Linked DNA regions of Homo sapiens: all the other regions are linked to region 3. Evidence: fine-mapped expression QTL. A gene starts in region 3. Each other region holds a variant in brackets. All regions are shown on one strand. Distances are between the middles of the regions.

Evidence for each region. PIP is the estimated chance that this variant, and not a neighbour inherited with it, causes the effect.
Region 1: its variant is fine-mapped to the expression of CASC3 in whole blood (TOPMed, PIP above 0.99).
Region 2: its variant is fine-mapped to the expression of CASC3 in whole blood (INTERVAL, PIP above 0.99).
Region 4: its variant is fine-mapped to the expression of CASC3 in nucleus accumbens (GTEx, PIP above 0.99).
Region 5: its variant is fine-mapped to the expression of CASC3 in whole blood (TOPMed, PIP above 0.99).
Region 6: its variant is fine-mapped to the expression of CASC3 in subcutaneous fat (GTEx, PIP 0.92).
Region 7: its variant is fine-mapped to the expression of CASC3 in whole blood (INTERVAL, PIP above 0.99).

What each region holds. Positions count from the first base shown.
Region 1 is chr17:40,326,385-40,330,448 of GRCh38, reverse strand. All of the region lies in intron 1 of RARA (retinoic acid receptor alpha), which reads right to left. Among named protein-coding and RNA genes, the nearest start is that of RARA-AS1, 15 kb to the left of the region's middle. The variant C/T (reference allele first, on the strand shown) is at 2,373.
Region 2 is chr17:40,360,284-40,364,338 of GRCh38, reverse strand. It overlaps GJD3 (gap junction protein delta 3), which reads left to right. Exons shown (of 1, transcript NM_152219.4): 1 at 1-3,687. The coding sequence starts at 524. The coding sequence ends at 1,408. It overlaps GJD3-AS1 (GJD3 antisense RNA 1), which reads right to left and starts at 1,494. Exons shown (of 1, transcript NR_186704.1): 1 at 1-1,494. RefSeq lists silencers at 1,151-1,260, 1,291-1,370, 1,491-1,560 and an enhancer at 1,388-1,682. The variant G/A (reference allele first, on the strand shown) is at 2,420.
Region 3 is chr17:40,138,510-40,142,573 of GRCh38, reverse strand. CASC3 (CASC3 exon junction complex subunit) reads right to left here and starts at 2,037. Exons shown (of 14, transcript NM_007359.5): 1 at 1,795-2,037; 2 at 1,340-1,367; 3 at 967-1,004. The coding sequence starts at 2,025. RefSeq lists enhancers at 1,721-2,020, 1,486-2,426.
Region 4 is chr17:40,342,900-40,346,963 of GRCh38, reverse strand. The region is part of intron 2 of RARA (retinoic acid receptor alpha); the gene reads right to left. It overlaps RARA-AS1 (RARA antisense RNA 1), which reads left to right and starts at 3,828. Exons shown (of 3, transcript NR_110861.1): 1 at 3,828-4,064. RefSeq lists a silencer at 1,430-1,479 and enhancers at 1,084-1,634, 1,635-2,184, 2,185-2,735, 3,836-4,064. The variant G/A (reference allele first, on the strand shown) is at 2,270.
Region 5 is chr17:40,409,302-40,413,365 of GRCh38, reverse strand. It overlaps TOP2A (DNA topoisomerase II alpha), which reads left to right. Exons shown (of 35, transcript NM_001067.4): 6 at 74-171; 7 at 395-607; 8 at 1,548-1,721; 9 at 1,911-2,012; 10 at 2,120-2,257. Among named protein-coding and RNA genes, the nearest start is that of TOP2A, 6.6 kb to the left of the region's middle. The variant A/G (reference allele first, on the strand shown) is at 2,224.
Region 6 is chr17:40,112,899-40,116,962 of GRCh38, reverse strand. No RefSeq gene overlaps it. Among named protein-coding and RNA genes, the nearest start is that of MSL1, 7.0 kb to the left of the region's middle. RefSeq lists enhancers at 1,528-2,313, 2,314-3,101, 3,132-3,191, 3,212-3,431. The variant G/A (reference allele first, on the strand shown) is at 2,017.
Region 7 is chr17:40,168,912-40,172,975 of GRCh38, reverse strand. It overlaps CASC3 (CASC3 exon junction complex subunit), which reads right to left. Exons shown (of 14, transcript NM_007359.5): 12 at 3,530-3,652; 13 at 3,314-3,378; 14 at 805-2,529. The coding sequence ends at 3,355. Among named protein-coding and RNA genes, the nearest start is that of RAPGEFL1, 6.5 kb to the left of the region's middle. The variant G/A (reference allele first, on the strand shown) is at 2,365.

The DNA of each region.
Region 1 (4,064 bases), 190 kb before region 3:
AAGCATTGGCACTTCTCAGAAAAATGACTCCTAAGCCAGGGGGCCCCTCTTACACCACTTCCCCCCCAGATCCAAGCCCCAGCACCCCAGACGGGTTTGTCCCACAGGCCCTGGGAGGAGGCCCATTTACGTACACACTAATAGGAAAATGGGAACCAAGGACTCCTAGGTATCACCTCCAATGCTTAACAGCATGGATGGTCCAGGGGTAGGCGATGTGTAGGAGGGCAAGGACCGCCCAGGAAGCCTCCTACCCCCAGGCAATGAAGGAGAGATTGATCTCAAGGTTCACCCACATACTTCTGTCTGCAGAAGCAAAACACATGAACTGGGGTGGGAGGTGGGCAGAAGATGAAAGGCCAGATGCCCCCTTCACCAGTGTGAATACAGATCCACACCCTGTTTGAACAGCTGGCACCAGAGGATATGCACAGATAATACCATGGGGTAGAGACAGAGACAGAGATGAACCCAGAGATTCCATAACACAGTGAGACAGATAGGCAGCAACAAGAGCAAAGAGAGAGAACACGAAGAACATATCCATACGAGGACAAGAGGATGTTTCAAATCCATTTTGGGTACAGGTTATATATAAATACATATGCATGTATTTATATATGAAAAATACATATATGAAAGACAAAAGAAAAGAGACAGACAAAAAGAAACATGGCCAATCAAAAGCACAATGAGGCTGGGGGCGGTGGCTCACGCCTGTAATCCCACCACTTTGGGAGGCTAAGGCAGGTAGATCACCTAAGTCAGGAGTTCAAGACCAGCCTGGCCAACATGGCAAAATCCTGTCTCTACTAAAAATACGAAAGTCAGTTGGGTGCGGTGGCTCACACCTATAATCCCAGCACTTTGGGAGGCTGAGGCAGGTGGATCACCTGAGGTCAGGAGTTTGAGACCAGCCTGACCAACATGCCGAAACCCCATCTCTACTAAAAAATACAAAAATCTACTAAAAAATTAGCTGCGCATGGTGGCAGGTGCCTGTAATCCCAGCTACTTGGGAGGCTGAGGCAGGAGAATCGCTTGAACCAGGGAGGTGGAGGTTGCAGTGAGCTGAGATCACACCATTGCACTCCAGCATGGGTAACAGAGCAAGACTCCGTCTCCAAAAAAAAAAAAACACACACACAAATACAAAAGTTATCCAGGCGTGGTGGCACATGCCTGTAATCCCAGCTACTCAGGAGGCTGATGCACGAGAATTGCTTGAACCTGGGAGGCAGTGAGCCGAGATTGTGTCACTGCACTTCAGCCTGGGCAACAGAGTGAGACTCCATCTCAAAAAAAAAAAAAGCACAATGAGATACCACTTCATACCCACTAGGCTAGCTCTAATAAGAAAGACAGATAATAACAAGTACTGGCGAGGATGTGGAGAAATTGGAATCCTCATATATTGCTGGTGGGAATGTAAAATAGAATAGCTGTTTTGGAAAACAGTTTGGCAGTTCCTCAAAAGGTTAAACACAGCGATGGCATATGACCCAGCAATTCTACTCCTAGGTATCTACCCAAGAGATATGACAACGTAAGTCCACAGAAAGACTTATACATGAACATTCACAGCAGCGTTATTCCTAATAGTCAAAAAGTGGAATCAACCCAAAAGTCCATCAACTGACGAATAAATAAAATGTTGTATGTCCCTACAATGGAACATTATTCTGCCAAAAAAAGAATGAAGTACTGATACTATGATATGGATATTCCTTGAAAACATTATACCGGTTACAAAGACCATGTATTGTAGGATTCCATTTATATGAAATATCCAGGATAGGCACATTTATAGAGACAGAAAGCAGACTTGTGGTTACCAGGAGCTGGGGCGTGGATTTGAGGAATATGGGAAGTGACTGTTGCTGGGTATGGGGGCTCTTTCTGGGGTGATGAAAGTGTTCTAAAATTGATTGTGGTGGTAGTTGCACAACTCTGAATATACTAAAACCACTGAATTGTACACTTTAATGGGTAAATTTTATGGTATGTGAATTATATCTCAATAAAGCTGTTTTAAAAAGAAGAGGAAAGAAAGAAAAGAAACAGGGCCACAGAGACTCAAAATAAGGACTGTCCATTTCCAACACCCCCTATACCTTGCCACTCCACCCCAAGCTCAGGCTACACTAGGTTCCAAGCTCTGAACTCCAGACTCTAGCCTCAAATCTGGAGTCCAGGGGACAAGCACATGGCCAGCATTTGGTTGAAGACCAGGCCTGGGAAGGGGGAGTTCCTGCCAAGGCCACTGTGGAAGAGGCCAGGAATTCTGGCCCAGCTGAGCCAGCCAGCCTGTGTGGAACTGAGGGAGAGAGGGTGGGAGGGGACAGGTACTGGGCTAGGGAGGGGAGGCTGCC[C/T]CAGGAGTAAAATCTGGACCTTGCTAATAACCACGATTTTTACTGTTACTCATTATGACAATCATAGGGCCTCTCTCCTCACTCCTGAATAAAGAGCTCCCTTCCTACCCCAGGCCCCTGCCAATTCCCTCCTAGGCTGAGAGGGCTGATGTCAGAGGAACAGGGGCCCCACCCACTGGACCAGTTGCCGCCCTGGCCCCCTCCCAACTCCTGTGGGGCCCCACACAACGGGAACTGGAGCTGGGGGAGCCATGCAAGGGAAGAAGAGGCTGGCAGAACCTCATCAGTTCCTACAGTTGGACCCTCACACACAAATACACATACAAACTCATGCATGCAGGTCTACAGAAAACATCTGGGTGGGCAAGAGCACGCCTGCAGCCCCAGCCTGTGTGTGTGCAGGCATGCATGTGAGGAGAAGGAACCTGGAGATACCATCTCTCCACACCTGGGCTCCACCACACAATGAACACAGCTCAGAAACTGCATGCATGGGCCCCAGTACACAGCTCCCCAAAGACACAACCACAGCCCCACAGTCTCCCAAACTGTACATTCTCCGAACCTCACACAGCCAGGGTGGCCCTTGTACCTGCTGCTTCTGCCAGAAGATGCTCTGAGGTCCTCCCTGTGGGCCCAGCCCATGCACCAGGTCCACAAACACTCAGGTGAATTCACATCCACAGAGGCCTGCCTCTCTCAAGGTGAGGCCCAAGGGGCAGCTAACCCAAAGTGAGGCCTCTGTAACCCACGCTGAGGCCCAGAAAGCCATCACTCCAGATCTCAGGCATCCTGACCCAGCCTTTGGGGGTCGGGAGGCCAGTTTAGTCAGTCCAGCCTGGACCCTCTGGAACCCACCCTTGCTCCCAGAGAAGAGAAAACCACAGCCACCTCAACTCTGCCCCAGTGGAGTTTGAAATTGAATCAAACTTCAATCCCCACTACCCCCACCTCACCCCCAGCCCACCACCCACACACACTACAGGGCAAGGCTGGAAGGCCTCCCCAGACCCCTATCAGAGCCTCCAAAAAGCCTAACCCAGCTCTGCCTGCAAATTTCAGTGCAAATTTACTCAGCTCCCTGGGGAGGGCCTTGAGCCGCAGGAGGGCTAAAGGTCACAGAAATAGGCCAAGGGCCAGAAAGACCAGAGAACAGGGATGGGCAAGGGTAGGGATGACCAGGGTGGGCCCAAAAGGGCACAGACTCTGCCTCAGAAGGTCCATCAGAAGCTATGACCCTCAGAGAGACACCTGGGCCCCAGCCCCCTACACCCCAGGGGTGGAGAAGGCCTCGGCAGAGAATCGAAACCAGTACCAAAGAGAGGGAAAACAAACTACCCACATCCAACCTCCACCCTATGCCAGCCACCTCCACTGCCCACGGGCACCCTCCCCTGAGAGAGAGAAAACCACAGGCCCACACCTCCAATATATGGAGCCTAGCCTAAGCACAGCAGAAAAAGGGGTAGGGGGCTAGAGCACCTGCAACCAGCCCCACACTCCTGCCCACTGGGGCCGCTCTCACCCTCAGAAGGTGCCAGGATCCCTTCTCCAGCATCAGCATCCCTAGCTGCCCACGCGTTACACCCCAGAGTCACACACCTAGAGAAAAAGGTGAGAGCTTTCTGAGCCACGAAGATGGGAGAAAGAACCAGAAGTCGGAAGGGTCAAATCTCAGCTCTGCCACTCTGG
Region 2 (4,055 bases), 220 kb before region 3:
AAATGGTGGGCCAAGAAAGGAGTGGTCTCGCTGCCTCTGCCACTCCCACTCCTCCCATGGGCACCAAATTGGGTCTAGCGTCTCGGGTTCGAGGCTCCACTCTTCCCACAGCATCCTTGACAGCTAAGGGCACCGCTGGGTTTCCGCTTCCGAAACCAGGCAAGTCAGGGGCTGGTCCAGCTGATCTCCAAGGTCCTTCCTAAGAATCTGGGATCTGGAGGATCCCAGGGTCGAACGGAGACGGCTCAGGGGGTGCGGCTAAAATGCAAATGGGGGATCCTCCCCAGCACCCATCGGTCCCAAAGAGAAGGTAACCCATAGCTGAGCGTCGCCTGCTCCCCTCGGGCCCTCCCGTGGCCCTCCGTTTCATACTGGTCTCATCGCTAAACCCGGGCCTCTCCTACCTCACGACTCACCCTGAAGTCAGAGAAGGTCCAACGGACCCCACCCCGATAGGCTTGGAAGGGGCAGGGGTCCCTGACTTGCCCCATCCCCTGACTCCCCGCCCCGCGTCCCCAGCGCCATGGGGGAGTGGGCGTTCCTGGGCTCGCTGCTGGACGCCGTGCAGCTGCAGTCGCCGCTCGTGGGCCGCCTCTGGCTGGTGGTCATGCTGATCTTCCGCATCCTGGTGCTGGCCACGGTGGGCGGCGCCGTGTTCGAGGACGAGCAAGAGGAGTTCGTGTGCAACACGCTGCAGCCGGGCTGTCGCCAGACCTGCTACGACCGCGCCTTCCCGGTCTCCCACTACCGCTTCTGGCTCTTCCACATCCTGCTGCTCTCGGCGCCCCCGGTGCTGTTCGTCGTCTACTCCATGCACCGGGCAGGCAAGGAGGCGGGCGGCGCTGAGGCGGCGGCGCAGTGCGCCCCCGGACTGCCCGAGGCCCAGTGCGCGCCGTGCGCCCTGCGCGCCCGCCGCGCGCGCCGCTGCTACCTGCTGAGCGTGGCGCTGCGCCTGCTGGCCGAGCTGACCTTCCTGGGCGGCCAGGCGCTGCTCTACGGCTTCCGCGTGGCCCCGCACTTCGCGTGCGCCGGTCCGCCCTGCCCGCACACGGTCGACTGCTTCGTGAGCCGGCCCACCGAGAAGACCGTCTTCGTGCTCTTCTATTTCGCGGTGGGGCTGCTGTCGGCGCTGCTCAGCGTAGCCGAGCTGGGCCACCTGCTCTGGAAGGGCCGCCCGCGCGCCGGGGAGCGTGACAACCGCTGCAACCGTGCACACGAAGAGGCGCAGAAGCTGCTCCCGCCGCCGCCGCCGCCACCTCCGCCACCGGCCCTGCCCTCCCGGCGCCCCGGCCCCGAGCCGTGCGCCCCGCCGGCCTATGCGCACCCGGCGCCGGCCAGCCTCCGCGAGTGCGGCAGCGGCCGCGGCAAGGCGTCACCGGCCACCGGCCGCCGAGATCTGGCCATCTAGGGGCGGGCACCGCCTCGCGCGGACTGGACGGCGAGGGCCGGACCCCGCCACCTCCGCCCGCACCGCAGAAGCCGGAAGCTGCTTCCACCAGAGCTGTCGCGGGACCTGCCCCGGCAGGAGACGCGTTGTGGGGACGGCCCGCGGGCGGCATCGCACTTGCCTCGTACTGCCTCCCAGTGGCTGCCGGCGGCACCTGGGGCAGGCCGGGCTGGGGGCGGAGAATGAACTCAGGCAGGTCCTGGATGCCACCACCCAGGTGGAAAGGAAGGAGACCAGGACCCTGAGAGAGAGTGGACCCGAGGGGGAGAACAGAGCGGAAGGTGGAGAGTGGTTGTTTTACTGGGGACAAAAACAACTGTGATGCCAGCATTCTCAGGCACTCTCTGTGTTCAGAGAGAGAGTGGTCCCCCTGTGGGCTCTCTGCGAGTGTGCATACACGGACACATAAGCACTGTGAGCTGTGTGCACGCGCACCTGTACACCCTGTGTGAGCGCTGTGCATGTGCGCGCATGTGTACACCCTGCGTGAGGCCCACTTGTGCACACAGACACACGTAACCCTCCCGGGTGAGCTGTGTGCACATGCACACAGAAACATATGCCCCTTGAGAGCTGTGTACTCACATCCCTGTGAGCTTTGTGTGAGTGCATTGTGCACACACGCACATGTCCATTCTGTGTGGGCTGCGTGTGCACACCTGTACACAGAAACATCCTTGTGCGCTATGTGTGCATGTGTACATCCGGCGTGACCTCTGTGTGTGCACGCGTGTGTGTGTGATCTCTGATATGCACTGCGGGGGTGGCCAGGATCCGATGCCAGCTGCAGCCACAATGGCTCCCTCCCTACCACCCTAACCCAGCCCACCTGCCAGGGCATCACAGGAGGTCTGTCCCCCCCTCCCAAGAGACCCCGCCCAGGGAGGGAAGAGGAGGAGAGGCTCCCTTTCCCCGGGCAGGCCTCAATCCTCGGGAGCCTATGAGCAACATCCTCACAGTACCCCTTGTGGC[G/A]AGGCGGGGGCTGGGCGCTTTCATGGAGGTGGGGTGGGGGTGGGCGGCGGGCCAGAGGGCAACCCAGACGTGTGTTATGCCTCCCTCCTCCATCTTCATCCTCCCCGCCGCTACTGCTCCCCCAGGCTATAAACGGGAAAGTCCCTTCTGTCCTCAGGAGAAAGCTCCCAAAACACACGCGCTCCCGGCCCTGCCTTCCCTTCCAACCACCCCCTTCTTCCTACTTGCGGGCATTCGAAGAGCTGCTGCCTATGCAGCGCATCCCCCTCCTGTGTCTCCCCTCCCGTCTGCCCTCCCCCTTCACCAGCCAGTGGGCTGCTCTCCATAAGATCACCCAGGACCTAAGCGAGAAATCCAGGGGCCGTCATCGGACTGCACCTTGCGGGCCTCACCGCATCCTGCCTACCAGGCTGTGCGTTCCCCGCCATCACCCCACCCTGTCCTTCTGAGTTCCTGGCGTCTTTCTCAGCTCTCCTGTGCCCCACACAGCAGTGGGAGGTGTTTCTGAATAGCGCCCCCCACTTAAACCCGGGACTGAGGGCAGCACCCCTGCCCTCAGGGTGAGTCAAGCGCCTTCACAAAGCTTCCTTCTGAAGCCCTGCCCCTGTCAGGCCTTCGACTCCACAGCACCGGCTTCCAGGTGTGCTCAGAACCATAGGGAATTTTCTCTTCTAACAAGCACCAGACCTGCTTGCTGCCAAGCGTTTGAACGTGCTGTTCCTTTGCCCAGAGTAGCCGCTGCTTCCTGCAGCCTTCTCCTCCCCTAGCTAATGCCCACCCACCTATTGTTGTCACTTGGGAAGAAAACAGACACCTTCAAGGAGAGGGCTCCCCTGGTAGCCCCCACCCCAAGACAGAGCTGGATGCCCCTCGCTTCCGTAGGGAAAGCACTTCTCCTGCAGGATGGCATTGCTCTCTCCCCTTCCATGGCACGTAGTATGTGCTCAGTAAATATGTGTTGGATGAGAAACTGAAGGTGTCCCCAGGCCTACACCACTGCCATGCCCGAACACTATCCATGCTATGGTGGGCACCATCTCTCTGATGACAGTTCTGTGTCCACAACCCAGACCCCTCCACACAAACCCAGATGGGGCTGTGCCGCTGTTTTCCAGATGTATTCATTCAACAAATATTTGTAGGGTACCTACTGTGTGTCAGAAGATGTTCAAGATCAGCATCATCCGATGGAAATAGCATATGAGCCATGTATGTAGTTTCAAGTTTTTCATTAGCCACATTAAAAAAGTAAAAGGAAACAAATGAAATTAATTTTAGTCACGTATTTTATTTAACCTAGCACACCCAAAGTATTTTCATCTTAATGCCTCATTGATATTAAAAAGTATTAAGGAGATAGTTTACATTCTTTTTTTCATACTAAGTCTTCCAAATCTGCACCCACCTAGCCAATTCTTTCCTCTAGAGATTTAGCAATGAGCCTCGGCTACAGCGGGAGACTCCGTCTCAAAATAAATAAAACTAAATTAAAAAGAGATTTAGCTGAGAGAGGCCACCTCTTCCAGGAAGGCTTCTGAGCCCTGCCCCAAGCGTGATTCAGTGCCTCTGCCCTGCACTCCCGTAGGCCTGTCAAGCCTGTTGCAGCTCTGCCCAGGTGGCATCCCGGTCACCTTCC
Region 3 (4,064 bases):
TCTCAAACTCCTGGCCTCAAGTGATCCGTCTGCCTCAGCCTTCCAAAGTGCTGGGATTACAGGCGTGAGCCACTGCTCCCGGCCCCTGTGGGCTTTCTTGACTGTTGTTCTCTCTGCCTAGAACACATCTTACCCAGCCAACTGTTTAATCTTTCCCGACTGCCTAAGATGGATTCAGTACCCAGCTGTAACACCCTACTTAGCCCTATCCCAGTGCTATCCCCTATCAGCAAGTGGTACAATTGCTTGAATGTTTGTCTGACTTCCTTATTGAGTTGTAAGATCTCTAAAGATAGGAATTTTGTTATAGTGTTCACTATTCCATCCTCAAGGGCTTAACAGATTCTAAAATGTAGTAACAGTTCTAAAAATGTATAGACAAAATCTTTGATCCACCATCCAATTCCCCCTATATATAATCCCATTACCAGAACTCAGGAGTCCACTCAACAACCCAGGAAACAAACACTTACTCTGATGGCATCTCTAGTAGTTTATCCAAAAGACAGGAAACTTTCTCCTAAAAACAGAAAAATCCCCACCTATAAAATGATGGATGCTCTTGGCACAAAACATTCCGAATCCTACCCTTTCAAAGTCTTCAGATAGATTTGGAAAAAAATAACCAATTGGCTGGCTTCTCAACCTACACTGCATAAAACAAACTGTCAAACATCTTTCAGAGGACTTCAAGATATCCTCACTCTCTTATTTAGAACCTCATATTCTTCAGACAGGAAGAGAAGCCAACTAACAGTATAACACCTGTGGCTTGAGACGGCGTGCCCCAAGTTTTCCCTAGGTCTAAAGTGAACAAGACCTTCTGTAACACTTTTTCAGAAGCATAAATGAAGAATACACAAGAGGATAAACACGGAGGTCATGGTACGTTTGCAACGAAGGTGTGTACACGTTTTTAAAAAGCATTTCTGATCTATACCATAGGAAAAAACCTGTCATACTCACTTCCGAGTCTTCTGCACTTTCATAATCCGAGAGAACAGCTGAAATAAAACAGAAATATGTGGAAAAAAAGAAACCCAGAAACATTTTTTGGCTGCTTATTACAGGTCAGACTAAGAGTCTCATTTAATTCTGACATCAACCTACAACGTGGATAAAATTATAGTCCCCACTTACAAAAGGAGAAACAGGCTCAGAGGGTAACTTGCTGAAGACTATACTGCTAAAGCCTATGCTCTTAACCACTATGTTACAAAAAGGCACTCTGTGGCCCTAAATCCGTGACAGTGTGTGAGAATGTCGATGTTGGAAATAGATGACCTGAGTTTATGTTAAAAAAAACTCTTGTCCTAATGGGGTAAAAGATGCTACTCACCATCACCTTCAATGCCATCTTCACTCTCCTGAAAGAAAGCAGAAGACATGGGTTAGTTCTGTGATTTCCAGAGGTGGGGAGCCCAATAAAGAAATGTGGGTGAAAAGCTGAAGATTCAGCACAAAATGGTTGGAGAGGGAGACAGAGATAGGTAAATCTTTATCAAGTAGTAGCCAAGGCAGGTCTGGTCTCCTTCCCTCCAGCCCCGACTTCTGAATAAAACATCCGCTTTCCATCTCCAGCGGCTCTACCATCCTCCCAGAAACCCCCAATCCTTCTTCTTCCCTTGGAACTCCGGATGCAAACTCGCATTGGGATAACTCCCCTTTTCTCTCAAAAACAAAAAAAAGTCCCAGTATCTACTATCAACTCACAGACTACCTAGCATCACCTACACCCCGCCCCCGGCCGGCTCGCCGCCCGGTCCCCACCCCGCCCCGCCTGCGCGCACTCACACACTCCGACTCCTCAGCACTCTTGGCGCCCCCGCTCTCCACCCGCCGCAGATGAAGGGCCCCGGTTCGGCCTCCGCGCTGTGAAGGCAGAGAGCCGCTGCCGCCGCCTCCGGCGCTACCGCTGCAGCTCCCGCCTCCCCGCAACGGGGAGCCGCCGCTGTCGGAGCCCGAAGCACCAGATTCCTCGTCCTCGGTGTCTTGCGAAGCGCGCTGCCGCCGCCGGTCCGCCATCTTACGGAGAACGGCCACCACCGGCGAGGTACTTACGCACCGCGCCCGTCGCAGAGGCTGCTGGGAGGCTGGATAGCTAGTCCCGGCGTGCTACGCGTGCGGCGCTCGGCCATCCCGCTGTGTGTGTGTGTGTGTGTGTGTGTGTGTGTGTGTGTGTGTGTGTGTGTGTGTGTGTTGGGGTGTGTGTGTGTGTGTTGGGGTGTGTGTGTGTGTGTGTGTGTGTGTGTGTGTTGGGGGAGGGGCGGGGCACTGGGCGGGGCCTAGGCCTGCGGCACGTTTGCGGCCGACCCGGATTACGTCTATCGGTGATGTAAGGGGGCGTGGCGCGGCTCCTGACTTCCCTTGGGCAGGCCTAGGGCGAGGGGAATTGAGACTTCAGCAGCCTCCCGGGTTCCTGGCCCGGCCATCTTGGGCTTCCCGAGTGGAAGGAGTCAACCTGTCACAGCTTCACTGCAACACTAGGGCTGTTTCATGGTTTTCTGTTTCCATTTCTCACTTCTACCTACGTTTGAAGCAGGTCAATTTACTGCATTCCTTTGCTTGGTAAAATCACGAATCAAGGTAAATCTTAAAAGCTGTAGTGCTGCGTCAGATTTGCTGCACCAGCCTTGTTTAAGATAACGGGCGAAGGAGAAACCAGTTGTCTGCAGTGAAGCCAGAGGACTTCTTGTTGCAGCGTTTTCTCTGTGTTCTCATTTCCTCTTCACGTTTCTTCCCACCCCAGCCATCACCTGTCCCAAAGTGCAGGCTGGTATGATGCCAGTATTACCGGTTTTGTTTTGGCTTTTTCGAGGCAGGGTCTCACTCTGTTGCCCAGGCTGGAGTGCAGTAGCGCGGCTCACTGCAGCCTTGACCTCCCAGGCACAGGTGACCTCCTTGCCTTAGCTTCCTTAGTAGTTGGGACAACGGGCACACACTACCACACCCGGCTAATTTTTCTGTTTTTTGTAGAGATGGGGTCTCGCTCTTGCCCAGGCTTGTCTCCTGGCTGGGATCAAGCGATCCTTTCGTCTCAGCCTCCCAAAGTGCTGGGACTACAGGCATGAGCTACTGCCCTTGTCAGGATTTTAGAACCTATTTAAAAATAAATGGTCAGTAGAAACAGATGTTGATTCAAAATCCTGACATTATTTCCTTCTTAAGGTTTATGGAAATTATTTCATTTTGGCAAGGCATTGGCCACCATTGAAAAGAATCAGTGTGTTTTCTTTGGACCATTATAAGGATATACAAAGTGCATGAGCTAAGTTTTTAGTGCACCTACAGGAGTGCACGTTAATAATGTATGTTATCAAACAAAGGCCACCATGGCATAGAATTCTTCCCTGAGTAAAATATTTTTTTTTTTTTTGAGAGGGAGTCTCACTCTGTCTGTCGCCCAGGCTGGGGTGCAGTGGGGTGATCTCGGCCCACTGAAAGCTCCGTCTCCCGGGTTCACGCCATTCTCCTGCCTCAGCCTCCCGAGTAGCTGGGACTACAGGTGTCTGCCGCCAGGCCCGACTAACTTTTTATGTTTTTAGTAGAGATGAGGTTTCACCGTGTTAGCCAGGATGGTCTCGATCTCCTGACCTCGTGATCCGCCGTTCTTGGCCTCCCAAAGTGCTGGGATTACAGGCGTGAGCCACCGCGCCCGGCCTTTCCTGAGTAAAATTTTTATAAATGACATGGTTAAGGATCCTGATGTTTATCAAATTTATAGATAACATGAAACTGGAAGTAATTATGAATGCCTTCAGAGATGAAAGGAAAATTCAAGGCCGGGCGCGGTGGCTCACGCCTGTAATCCTAGCACTTTGGGAGGCCGAGGCGGGCAGATCACGAGGTCAGGAGATCAAGACCATCCTGGCTAACACGGTGAAACCCCGTCTCTACTAAAAATAAAAAAAAATAGACGGGCGTGGTGGCAGGCGCCTGTAGTCCCAGCTATTCGGGAGGCTGAGGCAGAATGGCGTGAACCCGGTAGGCGGAGCTTGCAGTGAGCCGAGATCGCGCCACTGCACTCCAGCCTGGGAGACAAAGAGATTCTGTTTCAAAAAAAA
Region 4 (4,064 bases), 200 kb before region 3:
ACAGGGAACTAGGCCAACAACCTTGGCAGGGCTTTCCTGGCTCTTAGTAGTGCCTGGGCACCACTTCCCAGGCCAGCCTGGCTGACCAGCACTGCTATGGCCCCCCATCCCCTTCCCTGCCCCAAGACCAGCCTGCAGCAATGGGACAGTTGATGCCCACACCATCCCCAGCCCAGCAGATTCTCTCCTGACCTCCCCACCGCCGTCTGCTCTTCACTCCAACACCAACTGCCCTGGCCTGGTTTTCTCCCACCTCATTCTCCCCAGGCCAGACAAGCAAATCAGACAGGCTGAGAGGCCTGAGAACAGCTGCTGGGGGGGCGGGGTTGGGGGGCCTGGGTGAGGCCAGGAGGCAGAGGGGGTGAGCCACAAAGCAGCCCTTTGTTGTGCTAACTTTTTCCAAGACGTAAAAGCAGTAACAATAGACAATCCAGACTGGTGGGGGGAGGGGAGATCAAGGGCAAGGGGGTATGTGGAGGGTTGGGGGGACCATGGCCTAGAATCTTGGTCAGCATTCCGACAAGCAGAGGAAGAAGGCACTGACCTCCCCACCCCTCCTAATCCACCGTTTGCCCTGGGCCCCGCCTCTCCCAAGGCCCCACTTCTAAAATGAACCAGACTGGAGAGGGAGAAAGGACTGAGGGAGCTTTGGGGGTACAGAGCGGGATGTCACGAGGGGAGCTAGGGTATGGGGAGTCATGGGGGATACCAGGATGAGAGGTAAACAGCTCTAAGGCCTGGGACAGACTAGAGGGCAAAAAGCCATAAAAACATGGAGCTAAAGCAAAGTCCAACAGAGGGTGTTTACGGAACTGAGAGAATGTGCTTTTTAAAATTATTTTTTGGCAGAATGGGAGAGATGACCAGAGGCAAGGACTACAGTTTAGGCTGGGCAAGGCCTCCTTTTAGCCCACCCAACGGCAGCTTGACTGCCTTGGAGGCTGTAACATAGCCTGCCCCCTACCTCCAGCACATCCCCACCTGTCACCCAGGTAACCCAGCTCTGAGGTTTCCCTGCTCTGCCCTTTGAACCCAGAGCTCGATGCCCCACCTCCCCAGGCCTCCAGCCAGCAGTCCAAGGAGGTGAGGTACAAGGACCAAGGCCGGAGGTGTGGGGAACTCCGGAATCCTCACAGCCTCTGCAAGAGTTAGGACACGGCCATAACTCCCTGCACACACAGGTGGAGTGGGGAGGGACACCAACGGGGGAGGGACTGCCCGGGCCTGGCCCATCCCTGCTAACCTCCCTCCCCAGAGGCCCAGCCCACCAATCTCTCCTCTTCCTGCAGAAGGACTCGGGCTAGAGAAGGACCACACCTTCTCAGCTCAAAGTTCCAGCGCCCAACAGAGGACTGGAACTGACCCAGGAAGCCAGGCGTCCCCTCCCGCCGACGCTGCCAGGGTGCCCCTCCCTCGCTCCCCATCCTGGCAGGGCGGGCGGCGCAGAGCGCTCCACTCCGGATTCCCCACGCCCCCGAGCCGTTCGCAGGCTCGCACAAGGGGCCGGTTTCCTGGAGGAGATCAGCAGGAAATCAGCCGGGCCCCCGGCCAGCGGCTCCCCTCCCAATCCAGCTGGCGCCCGCTCCTCCGCAGCTCCCCTCGCAGCCCCTGGGGATGGTTGGGGAGGGGGCGTAGGGCCCTCTGTACCGTCCTTCCTCCTCCCGGGGAGAGGCGGGGGTAGCTCTGGGTGTACCGCGGCAGCGGAAGAAGGCCCCTAGCCCAGCGGCCGCCTGATAAGCGTCTCCCCCTCCCCCAACTACGGGCATCCACGTGCTTCACATTCTTGGACGTCTGGGAGCGGGCGGAGGTGTGAGTGGCGGAGATTGGTGGGAGACAGATGGGGAGCCACATCCTGTGCACCCCCCTTGTCCTCTAATGCACCGAAATGAGGGCTCTGGGGAGGGAGGCAATGTCCCTAGGGCCCTGCAGAACCCAGGCCACCTCCTCCCAGAGCCAACCTGCTCTTCCCACCTTCAGTGGCAGTAAAGGGGAGAGTGGAGAATTCCCCAAGAGGGGGCTGGAGGCAGCTCCAGTCACCAGCGGACTTCCACACACCCAAGGGGACCCTTCCAAGGTGGTGGCATTGGCCCCACATATTCTAGACTGAGTCTAGTTGCCACCCTCAGACTCCGGGTCCTTCCTGTGCCTCAAGGCAAGCCCCCAGACCCCCATCACTCCCAACCTCACAGCCTCAGGACCCGAGTCCACTGACACCTCACTCACTTATATATGCACACCCACGCTCAGACTACGGGAACTGGAAACCCAG[G/A]CCTCTAGGTCTACTACCCCACCCCAGAATGGATGTGGGGACAGGTCTCCACTTCCCCATGTCCAGTGGTTTAGGGGAAGGGCTCACCAATACACTGCCTGTCCTACTCTCTGTGATCCTCCTCCCTCTCCAGTTCTGGGCCAGGAAGAGCTGAGCTGTCCCCATGGGCTAAGAAGAGACAGGGGCTGGAGACCAAGGTCTCAGATCCCAGCTTCTCTCCAGCCCTCTGGAGAAGGTGGCCAAGGCAGTGGAAGGGGTGACTCTGGCAGCCCTGCTCCAACTATCCCCCTAGGGGAGGGGGGTCTTGCTCCAGCACTGGGAGAATGAGAAAAAGGGTCCTAGAGTCATCCTCTCACTCTCTCTTCTTCCAAAGTCAAGGGTGATACCTTCCCTCTTGTGTCTACAGCCACACAGCAGATTCGGCCCTAGAGGAAATGGTCGGGGGCAGGACAATAGGAAAAGCTGGGATAGAAGTGGCTCTGGGAGGGCAGAGGTGGGCTGTCTGTCCATCTCAGGTCTCTCTTCTCCCAGCAAGAGGGGTGGGGTAAGTCCTTTGCCCTTCAACCTTCTCCAATCTGCCAGGGCCCCCCCGAGACCCACTCCACCCCTCCTCCCTGGCAGGCAGGAGGGAGGCAGCAGGTCCAGGAAGGTGGGAGATCCTCCACGGAAGAGCTTCCCCTCCAGCAAAGAGCCCAAAGCCCAGGAGGGGAAGAAACCTGAGCCATCTAACAATAACCCCCTTGCGCCTGCTCCCGCCCACCCAGTGTACACTGCCTCACAGCTGCGCAGGAAAATGCCCAGGTGTACACCCTGGTGCTCCGAGCTCCTGAGTGTGCACAGAGCCCTTCCTCCCAGAGGAGCCTGCACCCAGGCAGGGGGCAACAAGGAGAGAAAGTGACCAGGCTGCCAGGATGCTAGGATTCTCATCAGTGCCCCTCTTAGGAAGGCACAGCCCAGGACCTGGCCCTATCCCCAAGTGAAGTCAGGGTAACAAAAGGACTCGGTGGCGGAGCTGGGAAGGGATGCAGTCCTCATTTCCAGAGCAGCCCCAGACCCACAAAAACAAACTCATTCCCCAGAGAACAAACCGGATTAGGATTAGGGGGAGAGGGATTCTTCTCACCAGAGCAGCTTCTCCCCTCCACTCCTGGGGATGAAAGCCTCAAAGATGACAGCCAAGTGTCTGGGGCCAGGACAACAACCCCATAAGGACCCAGTGCCCCTTGCCAAGATGGAAGGTTAGGATGGCAGACGGGTGTCTGATGAAGTTGCCCCTTTCTGCCACACCCCACTGTCAATACCAAAGACACTGAGTGCTCCCCTGACACCCACTCTAATGACGCAAGAGCAAGGGCTGGGGGCAGCAGCTGTCGCACAGGAAGGGGCTCTCCCTCGGGCTTTGGCAAGTGGGATCTGGCGGGGGGGCCTTCCCCCGGGAGCAGACAAACCCACACAGACAGGACCTTTACCCCACCCTCCAGCCTGCTGTGAAGCTGTTGGATTCCAGGCAAGAAGATATAAACTGGGGGCAAGGGGCTTGGGCTTCATTTCTCCTGGAAGAAGTGAAACAAGAGATGAAGGAATGTTGCTTGAAAGAAGGAACTCTCAAAGTTCCTCAGCCCTAATCTAACACAAATTGCACTTAGGGTTACTGGGGGGAGGGTGCGGCCGGGAGGGTTCAATTGTCCAGCAAGGGCAACACGGGTTAAGTGAAAGGTAGAGACAGGACCTCCACTACACCCCGGGACTCTCACCCCCGAGTAGTAGTGGAAGCCCTACCGCCCACTCCCACCCC
Region 5 (4,064 bases), 270 kb before region 3:
TGCCAGTGATTAAGAAATAAAGCTGTCAATGAGATAGTAACAATAAAATAGTGTTTCATATTTATTTGCCCAGGTGGTCGAAATGGCTATGGAGCCAAATTGTGTAACATATTCAGTACCAAATTTACTGTGGAAACAGCCAGTAGAGAATACAAGAAAATGTTCAAACAGGCAAGTAAATAAGTGTCTTGTACCTTAATGATAAATGGTAGTAGTATAGCCATTTATAATGGCATTAATGATTGGTTTAATTTAACATAATTTATAAGCTATTGAAGTATGGAAAATTATAAGCATATATATTAGGTTATTAGGACTCATAAATTTATGTTATTTACTTCCAGTTTGTGAGATGACTTGAATTTTTCATGTTTCCTATTCTTTACTTCCATAGACATGGATGGATAATATGGGAAGAGCTGGTGAGATGGAACTCAAGCCCTTCAATGGAGAAGATTATACATGTATCACCTTTCAGCCTGATTTGTCTAAGTTTAAAATGCAAAGCCTGGACAAAGATATTGTTGCACTAATGGTCAGAAGAGCATATGATATTGCTGGATCCACCAAAGATGTCAAAGTCTTTCTTAATGGAAATAAACTGCCAGTGAGTATTTTCCTGGATGTTAAGGATAATAAGGGATTTTGTAATCATTGTCAAGTGCAAAATTGAATTTTTTCCCCTCCCATATGTTTTTGTTTGTTTGTTTGTTTGTTTGTTTGAGACAGAGTCTCACACTGTTGCCCGGGCTGGAGTGCAGTGGCACGATCTCGGCTCACCGCAACCTCCACCTCCCAGGTTCACGCAATTCTCCTGCCTCAGCCTCCCAAGTAGCTGGGATTACAGGTGCCTGCCACCACACCTGGCTAATTTTTTGTATTTTTAGTAGAGACAGGTTTCACTATGTTGGCCAGGCTGGTCTCGAACACCAGACCTCATGATCCACCCGTCTTGGCCTCCCAAAGTGCTGGGATTACAGGCATGAGCCACTGCACCTGGCCCAACCATATGTATTTTCTTACCACTTCTCACATATGTTCTTGAAAAGAGAATGGTATGCCACATTTTTTAATCAGCTCATTTTAAACTTACCGAAGGAATTTCTTTCTCAAAGAAACACCTAAAATAAATATTTCATGTCCTTTTTTTATTTTCCTTTTTCTTTCTTTTCTTGATAACCTCGCTGTGTCACCCAGGCTGGAGTACAGTGATGCAATCACGGCTCACTACAGCCTGGACCTCCCAGGCTCAAGCGATCATCCCACCTCAGCTTCTGGAGTAGCTGGAAATGCAGGCAGCACCACCATGCCCAGCTAATTTTTTTTTTTCTTTTTAATAGAGGTGGGGATCTCACTATGTTGCCCAGGGTGGTCTTGAACTCCTGGGCTCAAGTGATCCACCCACCTCGGCCTGTGTCCTTTAATGACCATTCCCTTATGCCTATCAGTGAACATCATTGCATTGGTTTTGGAAAGTCCTCATAGTCTATCATTGAACCTATTTTTTAATAACTTTCTTAATACTGTTACCTTTAATTCCTGTACAGGTAAAAGGATTTCGTAGTTATGTGGACATGTATTTGAAGGACAAGTTGGATGAAACTGGTAACTCCTTGAAAGTAATACATGAACAAGTAAACCACAGGTGGGAAGTGTGTTTAACTATGAGTGAAAAAGGCTTTCAGCAAATTAGCTTTGTCAACAGCATTGCTACATCCAAGGTAATTTTATTCTTAAATTATTAATCATGATTTATCTTTACATATATGTGTTCTTATTGTTTTTAATATATAAAGTGGACTTGAATATTGGGCTAGCTTAGTATAAAGGAGGTTAAATTAGTTTTTAATGTTTGATTATTATAATTTTGAGGATACTGAGTTTTACAGTTTGGTATTTTTCCTTATTAGGGTGGCAGACATGTTGATTATGTAGCTGATCAGATTGTGACTAAACTTGTTGATGTTGTGAAGAAGAAGAACAAGGGTGGTGTTGCAGTAAAAGCACATCAGGTATGTGCTTTTGGCAGTTTTCTTTTTCTAAAGTCAAGGAAGAAGAGAAAGGCTATAAATAAAGCATGAGTACATTTTTAGTGGCTTAATATCAACTTCTATTGCAGGTGAAAAATCACATGTGGATTTTTGTAAATGCCTTAATTGAAAACCCAACCTTTGACTCTCAGACAAAAGAAAACATGACTTTACAACCCAAGAGCTTTGGATC[A/G]ACATGCCAATTGAGTGAAAAATTTATCAAAGCTGTGAGTACTTAGAGGAAAATAAAAATAGAAACACCTGACTTTATTTTCCATTGCACTTCTTAGCTCTGCAGAAACAATGATTCTTCTCATAGTGAGCTTCTCCAAGTCTTCCCAATCTGAAAAGGAAGTAAAAAAGGGCTTTACTTTAACTGATTTACCAAAGACTTAATGACCGTCTATATTTCAGTATTTCCCAATTACATTTTACCATTAAGCTTAGATCACTTTTGAATTAATCTAGCTGTTTAACAAACACCCTCACTTAAATGCCTAAGACTTGCTTTCAGTCAACACATCCAAAATTGAATTTGTTACCTCCATACTCACTGATTTGCCCATACAAGCAGCCCCCCACTCTCCAACAAAAAAACAACTTCCTATCTTAGTAAAAAGCCCCAACCAACCTCTAGGTTGTATAAACAAGAAAGCTGGGAGCCTTCCTTTATTTCCCCTCCTCTCTAATCCGGTCAATAAGAATCATCTCTTGGATGCTGCAGTAGCTTCTCACCATTATCTCTTTTTTGGTTTACTACAATAGGTTCTTAACCTTCATACTGGTTAAGTCCTTTCCTTGGAATGCTTTTGAGTGACTTTTGTGTTAAAACACCCATTTTTATCTTCACTCTCATTTGAAATCTTTCAATGACTTCCACTCAGGGAAAGTCCAAATTCCATAATTTGGCCAACAAGAAAGATCTGCTGTAATCTAATTACACCTACTTCTCCAACTCATCTCAGTGCCAGTTTTTCGTATATTGTCCTGTTGCTTTTAAATTACTGAAAAGCACAGTGCTCTTCCCCTCCTCAGAGTTTATTCACATGCTAATCCCTCTGCATGAAATACATCCTTTTCACCTGGCTACTTTAGGTCTTGTCCTTTCCTCAGGAAAGCCTTTACTTTCTACCCTTCCCCCCACCTAAGTTGGTTCCAATATAATATTGAACATACCTTATTAGCAAACTTTTTGCTTATCCATAACACTTATAACACTGTAACTTATTTTATTTCTGTCTTTTTTTTTAGGCAGAGTCTCGCTCTGTCGCCCAGGCTGGAATGCAGTGGCACGATCTCGGCTCACTGCAACCTCCGCCTCCTAGGTTTCAGTGATTCTCTTGCCTCAGCCTCCCGAGTAGCTGAGATTACAGGCATGCATCACCATGCCTGGCTAATTTTTTTGTTGTTGTATTTTCAGTAGAGACAGGGTTTCACCATGTTGGTCAGGCTGGTCTCAAACTCCTGACCTCAAATGATCCACCCATCTCGGCCTTCCAAAGTGTTGGGATTACAGCCATGAGCCACTGTGCCCAGTCTTTTTTTTTTTTTTTTTTGAGACAGAGTCTTGCTGTGTTGCCCAGGCTACAGTGCAGTGACGTAATCCTGGCTCATTGCAATCTCTGCCTCCCAGGTTCAAGCGATTCTCCTTGCCTCCTGAGTAGCTGGGATTCTCCAGCCTCCTGAGTAGCGGGGATTACAGACATGCACCATCACATCCAGCTAATTTTTGTATTTTTAATAGAGATGGGGTTTTACCATGTTGGCCAGGCTGGTCTTGAACTCCTGGCCTCACTTGATCCACCATCCTCGGCCTCCTAAAGTGCTGTGATTACAGGCGTAAGCCACTGCACCCAGCTATGTCTGTCTTCTATGTTGTGTCTTAAACTTGATGAGGACAAGTGTCTCAATTTGTTTTATTTGTGTCTAATTTTATTTATTTATTTTTAATTTTTTTTTTTGGAGACAGCTTCTCACTGTTTCCCAGGCTGGAGTGCCGTGGCTTGATCTCAGTTCACTGCAACCCGCGCCTCC
Region 6 (4,064 bases), 26 kb after region 3:
TGTAATCTCGGCTACACAGGATGCTGAGACAGGAGAATCGCTTGAACCTGGGAGGCAGAGGTTGCAGTGAGCCAAGATCAAGTCACTGCACTCCAGCCTGGGTAGCAGAGTGAGGCTCTGTCTCAAAAAAAAAAAAAAAAATTAGCCGAGCATTGTGGTGCATGCCTGTAGTCCTAGCTACTTGGGAGGCTAAGGCGGGAGGATTGTTTGAGCCCGAGAGGCTGAGGTTATAGTGAGCTATGATCACACTGCTGAACTCCAGCCTGGTTGATAGAGCAAGACTCTGTCTCTAATAAAATAGTGAAACCTAGAGAAGAGTAAATTTGTCTAGGAACAAATTTGAACATACCATCTGGAAGGAATTAAGGAGGAAGTGACAACTGAGGTGGGCCTTGAAGGTTGAGATCAAAGGACATTTCAGGCAGAGGTAAGAACATTGCAGCTGGGCACAGTGGCTCACACCTGTAATCCCAGCACTTTGGGAGGCCGAGGCGGGCAGATCACGAGGTCAGGAGATCAAGACCATCCTGGCTAAGACGGTGAAACCCCGTCTCTACTAAAAATTAAAAAAAATAGCTGGGCGTACTGGCAGACGCCTGTAGTCCCAGCTACTTGGGAGGCTGAGGCAGAATGGCATGAACCTGGGAGGCAGAGCTTGCAGTGAGCCGAGATCGCGCCACTGCACTCCAGCCTGGGAGACAGACTCTGTCTCAAAAAAAAAAATTAGCTGGGCGTGGTGGCATGTGCCTGTAGTCCCTCCTAATAGGGAGGCTAAGGCAAGACAGGAGAATCACTCAAACCCAGAAGGCGGAGGTTGCAGTGAGCCGAGATCTCACCACTGCACTCTAGTCTGGGTGAGAAGAGCGCAACTCCGTTTCAAAAAAAAAATAGGATGTAACTGTAGAAAATGGGAGAAGTTCATTGGAGTGTAGTTCTGGATAGTGGGGCATGTAGGGGATAAAACAGATTGAGACCAGATTATGAAGGTCTGAAGGCCCAGTTAAGGAATGTATAATTTATCAGCCTTGGTGAAACATCAGAGGATTTCCACCAAAGTATAGAATGATTAGATTTGTGTATCTGAAAGCTAACTTCAATATTTGCGTCTCTGCACCAAAAGCCGGAGGCCAACTTGAAGGCTGTTAGTGCAGGTGTGAGATGATGAGTGGTTAAGATACTAGTAGTATGGGGATATAGAGGGAATGACAGGAGGAGACTCAGCTGTTAAGAGCAAAGTTTCTGGTGTGAAACTGCAAATAGCAATCACAGTTCTCCCGTTTAGTGGCTGTGTGTTATTTAACCTCTACCTCAGGTTGCTTATCTGTAAAATGACTATACTAATACCTTACTTCACAGGGTTATTGTGAGGATTAAATGAGATAATCCATGTAAAATGTTTATCATAGCATGTGGCACCTAGTAATGCTTGATAATGTAGTTATCACATTATTACTAATTGGCAGCATTTGTTGATCAATAGAAAGTGGGGTGAGGGAGAAGGAGGGCTTTACCGTCAAATTTCTAAGACTAACCAGCTGGCAATTCCATGAATAAATTATATGTTTTCTTCCTCTCTAGCCCAATTGTGGTTCCAGGCCAGCACCTTCAGTATCACCTGGAAACTTGTTAGATATGCAAATTCTTGGCTTCCCACCTTAGACCTAATGAATAAGAAACTGTGGGGTGAGATGCAGCACGTGGTGTTTTAACAAGCCCTCCAGGTGATTCTGATGTACTTCAAGTTTGAGAACCACTGCTTGGGACTCTACAACTGGGGTTGGTTGACTTTTTTTTTTAAACGGGGTCTGGCTGTGTTGCCCAGGCTGGAGTCCAGTAGCTGTTCACAGACATTATCATACCTCGAACTCCCAGGCTCAAGTGATACTCCTACCTCAGCCTCCTGAGTCACCGGTACTACAGGTATGCACCACCATGCCTGGCTAATTTTTACATGACATGGGGCCTCACCATGTTGCCCAGGCTGGTCTCAAACTCCTGGGCTCAAGTGACCCATCC[G/A]CCTTGGCCTCTCAAAGTGCTGGGACTACAAGCATGAGCCACTGTGCCTGGTCTCAACATTTTTTTTTTCTGGAAACTTTACAGCTCTGAAATCCAAAGTCTAGGATTTCACTGCTCCAGACTAAGTAAACATGCTTTTCCCCACCAAAGCCAAAGCTGGAATTTTTGGATTGGAGGTCTGATCTTGATCTCAATACACAGGATGACCTGGCTAAACCACCAGAAAACTGAAACCTGAGAAGAGAAGGTCTTCTAAGAAGGGAAAGGAATTCTTGTTTCCAAACCATTAAGTTTTAAGCTGTGGTGATCCCTGAACTAAGAAATGTAAAGAAGGGAGCTCTCAAAGGCCCAGAGGGGCAAAGTGGAGTTGCCAGCTGTGAGGGAGCCTAGGAAAACTGTGTTTAGGACCATAAATCAAGTCCTTAAGTCTTTTTTTTTTTTCTTTTTTTTGAGACGAAGCCTTGCTCTGTCACCCAGGTTGGACAGTGCAGTGGTGCAATCTCGGCTCACTGCAACCTCCACCTCCTGGGTTCAAGCAATTCTTTTCTGCCTCAGCCTCCCGAGTAGCTGGGATTCCAGGCGCCTGCCACCATGCCCGGCTAATTTTTGTATTTTTAGTAGAGACGGGGGTTTCACCATGTTGGCCGGGCTGGTCTCGAACTCCTGACCTCAGGTGATCCGCCCACCTCAGCCTCCCAAAATGCTGGGATTATAGTCACCGTGTCCGGATTGAGCCACAGTGTCGGGCCTCCCTAAGCAATTCTGTCCCTAATGAGATAATGACCATTCTTTTTGCCTTCTGGCTAAGAGTATGGAAAGAGTTAAAAGCCAATACTTTCACCACCCCTCTAAGGCTTATAGAATGGCAGAATTCCATTTCTATGACCTACATTCTTTGAAGGGAATGCCTATGTCGTGGAAAGAGGATGCAGCAAGACTTTTCACTTGACTGGGCTTGGTTTTCCCAGACCAAAAAATAAAATGGAAATAAATCATCTTTAAGGTCCCTTGCAGCTTTATGACTGTATAAAGCTACGTTTTCCAGCTAACAGTGGGGCAGAAGTAGGTAGAAAAAAGAGGAGACTTGTTTTGGCCACTCCCCAGGGAAAGAGGATTCATCTGGGTGGTTTCCTGAAGCTCTCGGAAAGGTAAATAGAGACTGGAGTTGTGTGACTGGTATTACCCCAGTCCTGTGACACTGAAAGGACACCACAGTTGGAGAGGCCACCTTTGCCTTCTCCGGGAGGATGGGGGATGGGAAGCCAGCGTGGAGCCACAGAGGCTTCCAGCTCCGCAGCCTGGCCTGGCTCAGCTCTTTCTGGCAGAAACCATGTCCTGCGTTCCAGGCTTCCGCGAGCAGGATGCTAGTGTGCTGCTCTCCTGCTCCCCTCTGCGGGGGCCTCTCAGAGGGTAGGACACACCCTCCTTGCCTTTTTTTTTTCCCCCTATTAAAAATCACAACTCAAATTTGGGTATTTTTCTCCCTCTGCTAGCCCCGCCAAAACTTTCAGCGCGTTCCGCCCACTCCACGTGGACCTCCCTTCCCTGTCCCAGCAGCCCCTGCGAGAACCCTCACCCCAACATGTGACCAATTGTTATGTTTCCTTCCTGGAGCTCGCTTTCAGCTGGCACCAGCTAACGACTGAACAAAAGTGCCCCCTTCAGGGTGAATGTGGGGCAGCAGCTTGAGAGGAGGAAAGCTGATGAGGGCTCAGGTACAATAGGGGAATGCAGCTGCCTCTGTTTAAAATGATTTCATATCTACATAGCTCCCTGGCTAAGGATTACACAATCAAACGATGAGACAAATGCAAGAGAAGGATGTCATCAAATAAAATTACTTGGGGGTGGAGTTGAATAAAATTTTAATTTCCAGCTGCAAAGTTGGTTACCTCTACTCCAACTCCATTTCCCGTTGAGTTCTTCATGATGTTGGCAGAGCACTCAGATCCTCCCATTCCAGACAAGAGCCAAGAATGCCCTAATTATGGGCTGGGTGATGGGAACAGGGCCTCCTCTGGGTGGGTGAGCTGCTTTTTGCTCACTAC
Region 7 (4,064 bases), 30 kb before region 3:
CACACAAATTCCCTTCCCCTTACCTGAGCTGATAGTCTCTCTAAGACTGTGTGGTCCTGAATACTTTAGTGTCAGCATCTTTACTTTTCCTTTTTTTTTTTTTTTTTTTTGAGACGGAGTCTCACTCTGTCGCCCAGGCTGGAATGCAGTGGCGCAATCTCGGCTCACTGCAAGCTCCACCTCCCGGGTTCCCATCATTCTCCTGCCTCAGCCTCCCAAGTAGCTGGGACTACAGGCACCCGCCACCACTCCCAGCTATTTTTGTATTTTTAGTAGAGGCAGTGTTTCACCCTGTTTAGCCAGGATGGTCTCGATCTCCCTGATCGAGATCTGCCCACCTCGGCCTCCCTAAGTGCTGGGATTACAGGCGTGAGCCACGGTGGCCAGCAGCATCTTCACTTTTCAAGAAAGCTAGCTACCTGTACTTCCCCCCAACCCAGGACTTGGTATAGTTATATTGACATCTGATGGCATATTACCTTGGGAAACTTACTTGCCAAACACAAAGGAAGCCATAAAGGATACTAGATGCTCATGTGAATAACCAGCATCTCACTACTTTTCTGTCCCTGACACTTCCAATCTAAGGGATGGCATGACATCCTGGTGATCTATGTGGTTAAAAAAGATAACTGATGGGGAGTGCAGACACATTTATGGCCTCATAGGGGCTCCTCATCTCTCTGGGCTTCTGTTTCACAACTTGGGCTGACCTGAGTTGTGACCGTGACCCTGTGGGGGAATTAGGGAGTCCTCTTCCCTCCCTCCCAAATCAAGACTCATGCAAAACACTGGCAAGGGAGCCAAGTTTATAGTCTAAATTTTATTATCTCCAAGTCACAATGCTGATCACAAATGGGCACCCTTTAAAACAGTAACAAAAAACACCACCACACATGGAAAAATCCTTGCAACTAAACACAGTGGACCAACAGAGACAACTCTCACAGTGTCTTAAGGTCTGGGAATCTGGGCATGCTGCCCACAGGCTTGAGGAGACATCTTCAGGTTTAAGGCAAAGGGAACAGCCTACAAAAGGCACAACCACCAGCTACCCCTAGAAGAATCTCTTAGTTATTTCCTCCTTGGGGGTTACAGATTAAGTGCCTCTCCCCACTCTCCATCCCACACCTGTGACTCAGAGTGATTAGGCCAGCTGCTAGATGGAAGGAATAAAAACAGTGACATTACCGGGGAGAGACACAGCCACCATCTTTGCCCTCAGGTTCTGTAGAAGGACAGGGACAGTGGCCAGGTTACCCCTGGCAGACGTATGTACTGCAGTAATAGGAATCTCTTCCACAGAGGCAGCAGAGAAGTGGTTTAGTGCCATGGATAGGGAGGAAAGATAGGAGCCCTTGCCCAGAAGGTGACTGGCTTCCTTAGGCCTTAAGCCCAGGAGTTTTTATATTCTGTCTGCAAGGACAAAAATAGAATTCGGGGAAAATAAGGTAGTAACATCTAAAACACTTGTAGCAGGAAAGACGTGGAGAAGAGCAATTGCAAAGGACAGGGTAGACTGCTTGCTGGATAATATTTGCCTTTAAAGAGATGCATTGGTCCACAGCAACTGGAAAAGGGGTGTAGCAAGAAGAATGGAAAGAAGAGAAGCAAGGCCCTCTAATTCCACTTACCTCAAAAGACTGAGCCCTGAGGACTATGTGAATACACACCCCTAAAGGCAAAGGCTCTCACTCCACCATCCCTTTCTCACAAAAGCATCTGGTGTGCCATCTCTCCCCACAGTAGGGTATTGGCCCTCAGCAGAGAACAGAAGCCCATCATAGTACAGGTATTGATGGATGCTCAGACTCCTAAAAACCTAAGTCAAAGAGAAGGGCTCCTACCCACCTACTCTGAGCTTTTCTGCACAATGGGACCCTCTGTGCAGACAGCCATGCTTCCACAGGGTTAGAGTTAAGGGAATACAAGTATACAAGAGGATAACAAATGCCAACTAAAAGTGAAAGGCCAGGTCTTTTTAGACTTGGTGGGGAAGGCTGGCTGATACATTCTCCATTATCTGGGATGCACGGAAGAGTCAAAAGGGAATCCAGAGGGGCTAGAAAACCAGAAGACTAGACTTGTTTCATTTAAAGGCAGGGAGAGAGAGCAAGAAACAGAAACAAAGAGAAAAAATTAAAATAATATTAAGGATAAGAAGCCAGGCTTTAAAAATGAACATCTTAGAAAACAAAACAAACAGGAAGGAGCTTCCTTGGGAACAGAAGACACTTCAATTTCCCAGAAGTGAAGAACAGCAGAAGACATGGGCTTCTGTATCTAGACTCAGAAGCTTGGGGCTGTCTGGCTCTCTCTGCTCCCCCGAACACAGCCAACTCAAGTGAAGAGTGAAGATGGGAC[G/A]AGGTCCACTTGTTTCTCCCTCTCTCTAGAGCCTGTCCTCAGAGGAAGGCAGGGGTCCTCCTCTTTCAGCTGTTTGCTGGTAGGAGCCACACCCTATATCTTTGAAGCCCTTCTGGTAGTAGATAGCCAGCTGTATTTCTCTTCTGAGTTCTCACCTCTGCTGCTCTGACAGGGGTTGGAAAAAGGGAAGAACCACCAAAGTGTTAGTGGGCCTTCTGGGCATTCACAAGCTGTTTTCAAAAAGCCACACTTCTAAATAATGTGTTTTAAGTAATGTCCTTAAACAAAAGCAACAAAACCCCCAGTCCTTCTCCTCTATGATCTTTAGAACTGGTTTTTTCTGCTATAACATCTCAAATTTAGATTTCCCTTTTCCTTGACTGCCTTCCTGTATTTTTTCCTTGTAGCTTCCCAATTGAAAACTGTCATGTTAACAATCGTTTCTACTTCAACCCTGCCCAATACACTTGCCAAACAAACAAACTGGCAAATTTCAGGACTCCTTTAAGCCTCCTGAGATATCCCATGATTATTATAACTTAAAGCATTAATCAGAGGCTGGGTGGGGTGGCTCACACCTGTAATCCCAACACTTTGGGAGGCCAAGGCAGGTGGATCACCTGAGGTCAGGAGTTCAAGACCAGCCTGGCCAATATGGTGAAACCCCATTCCCACTAAAAATACAAAAATTAGCCAGGTGTGGTGGTGCGTGCCTGTAATCCTAGCTACTTAGGAGGCTGAGGCAAGAGAATCGCTTGAACTCAGGAGATGGAGGTTGCAGTGAGCCGAGATTGCACCACTGCACTCCAGCCTGGATAACAGACTGAGACGCCGTCTCAAAAAAAAAAAAAAAAAAAAAAAAAAAAAAAGCATTAATTAAGTGATTTTTGTTTATTAAGCAAGTGTGAGCATTAGTTTTAACAATATTCACAGTAAGTTGTGCACTTACTTTTATATGATGTTAAGATTTAAAATATTCAGAAACTTGTATTAACTGGAACCCCTGCTTACAACCTGAAATAACAAAGTTGGAATTTGTTATCAGGTCATAACAAAAAGACTGTTTTCCAGAGAAACACACCCAGAAAATGAGGGAAATCCTCTGGGGAGAAGGAAAGCCCACTGACGGAGCATGTGCATTAAGTATAGGAAGGAACTCTCATACCTCAGGTGGAGGGGGCTTGATGGTGACTGGCTGGGGAGTCCTCCGGGGTGGGGAGGGCTTTGGCTGCACCTGCTGCTGGGCGGGGTTATAGTAGGTCACTCCTCCATATACCTGTGATGGGGCCTGGGACCCCACAAGCCAGGAGAAGAAAAAGTTAGGAATGAATTCATCCAACCTATGATGAACAGGAAATATTATTCAGCCATAAGAGAATTGGGGAATTTATAATTTTAAAAATATCTAATCTGCCCACCCTTCAAAATAAAGTGACTATTCATTTTTGCCTTAATTCTTCATTATTATGCTCTGGTTTTTATTTCTTCAAAGTACTGCCCAGCTTTCTCTAATTCCTACCATCAGCTGACAAATGGAAAAGGCTGAGTTCAGTAGCGACACTACAGATACTTGATTATGTCAACGTGGTGGAAGTTAAGCAGGACAGAGGTAGGGGTGATAAGGAGTAGAATACAGCTTCTTTATGCAATAGAGTAAAAACCAGGTATTGCCACCTATGATGTACCACAACACAGGAAAG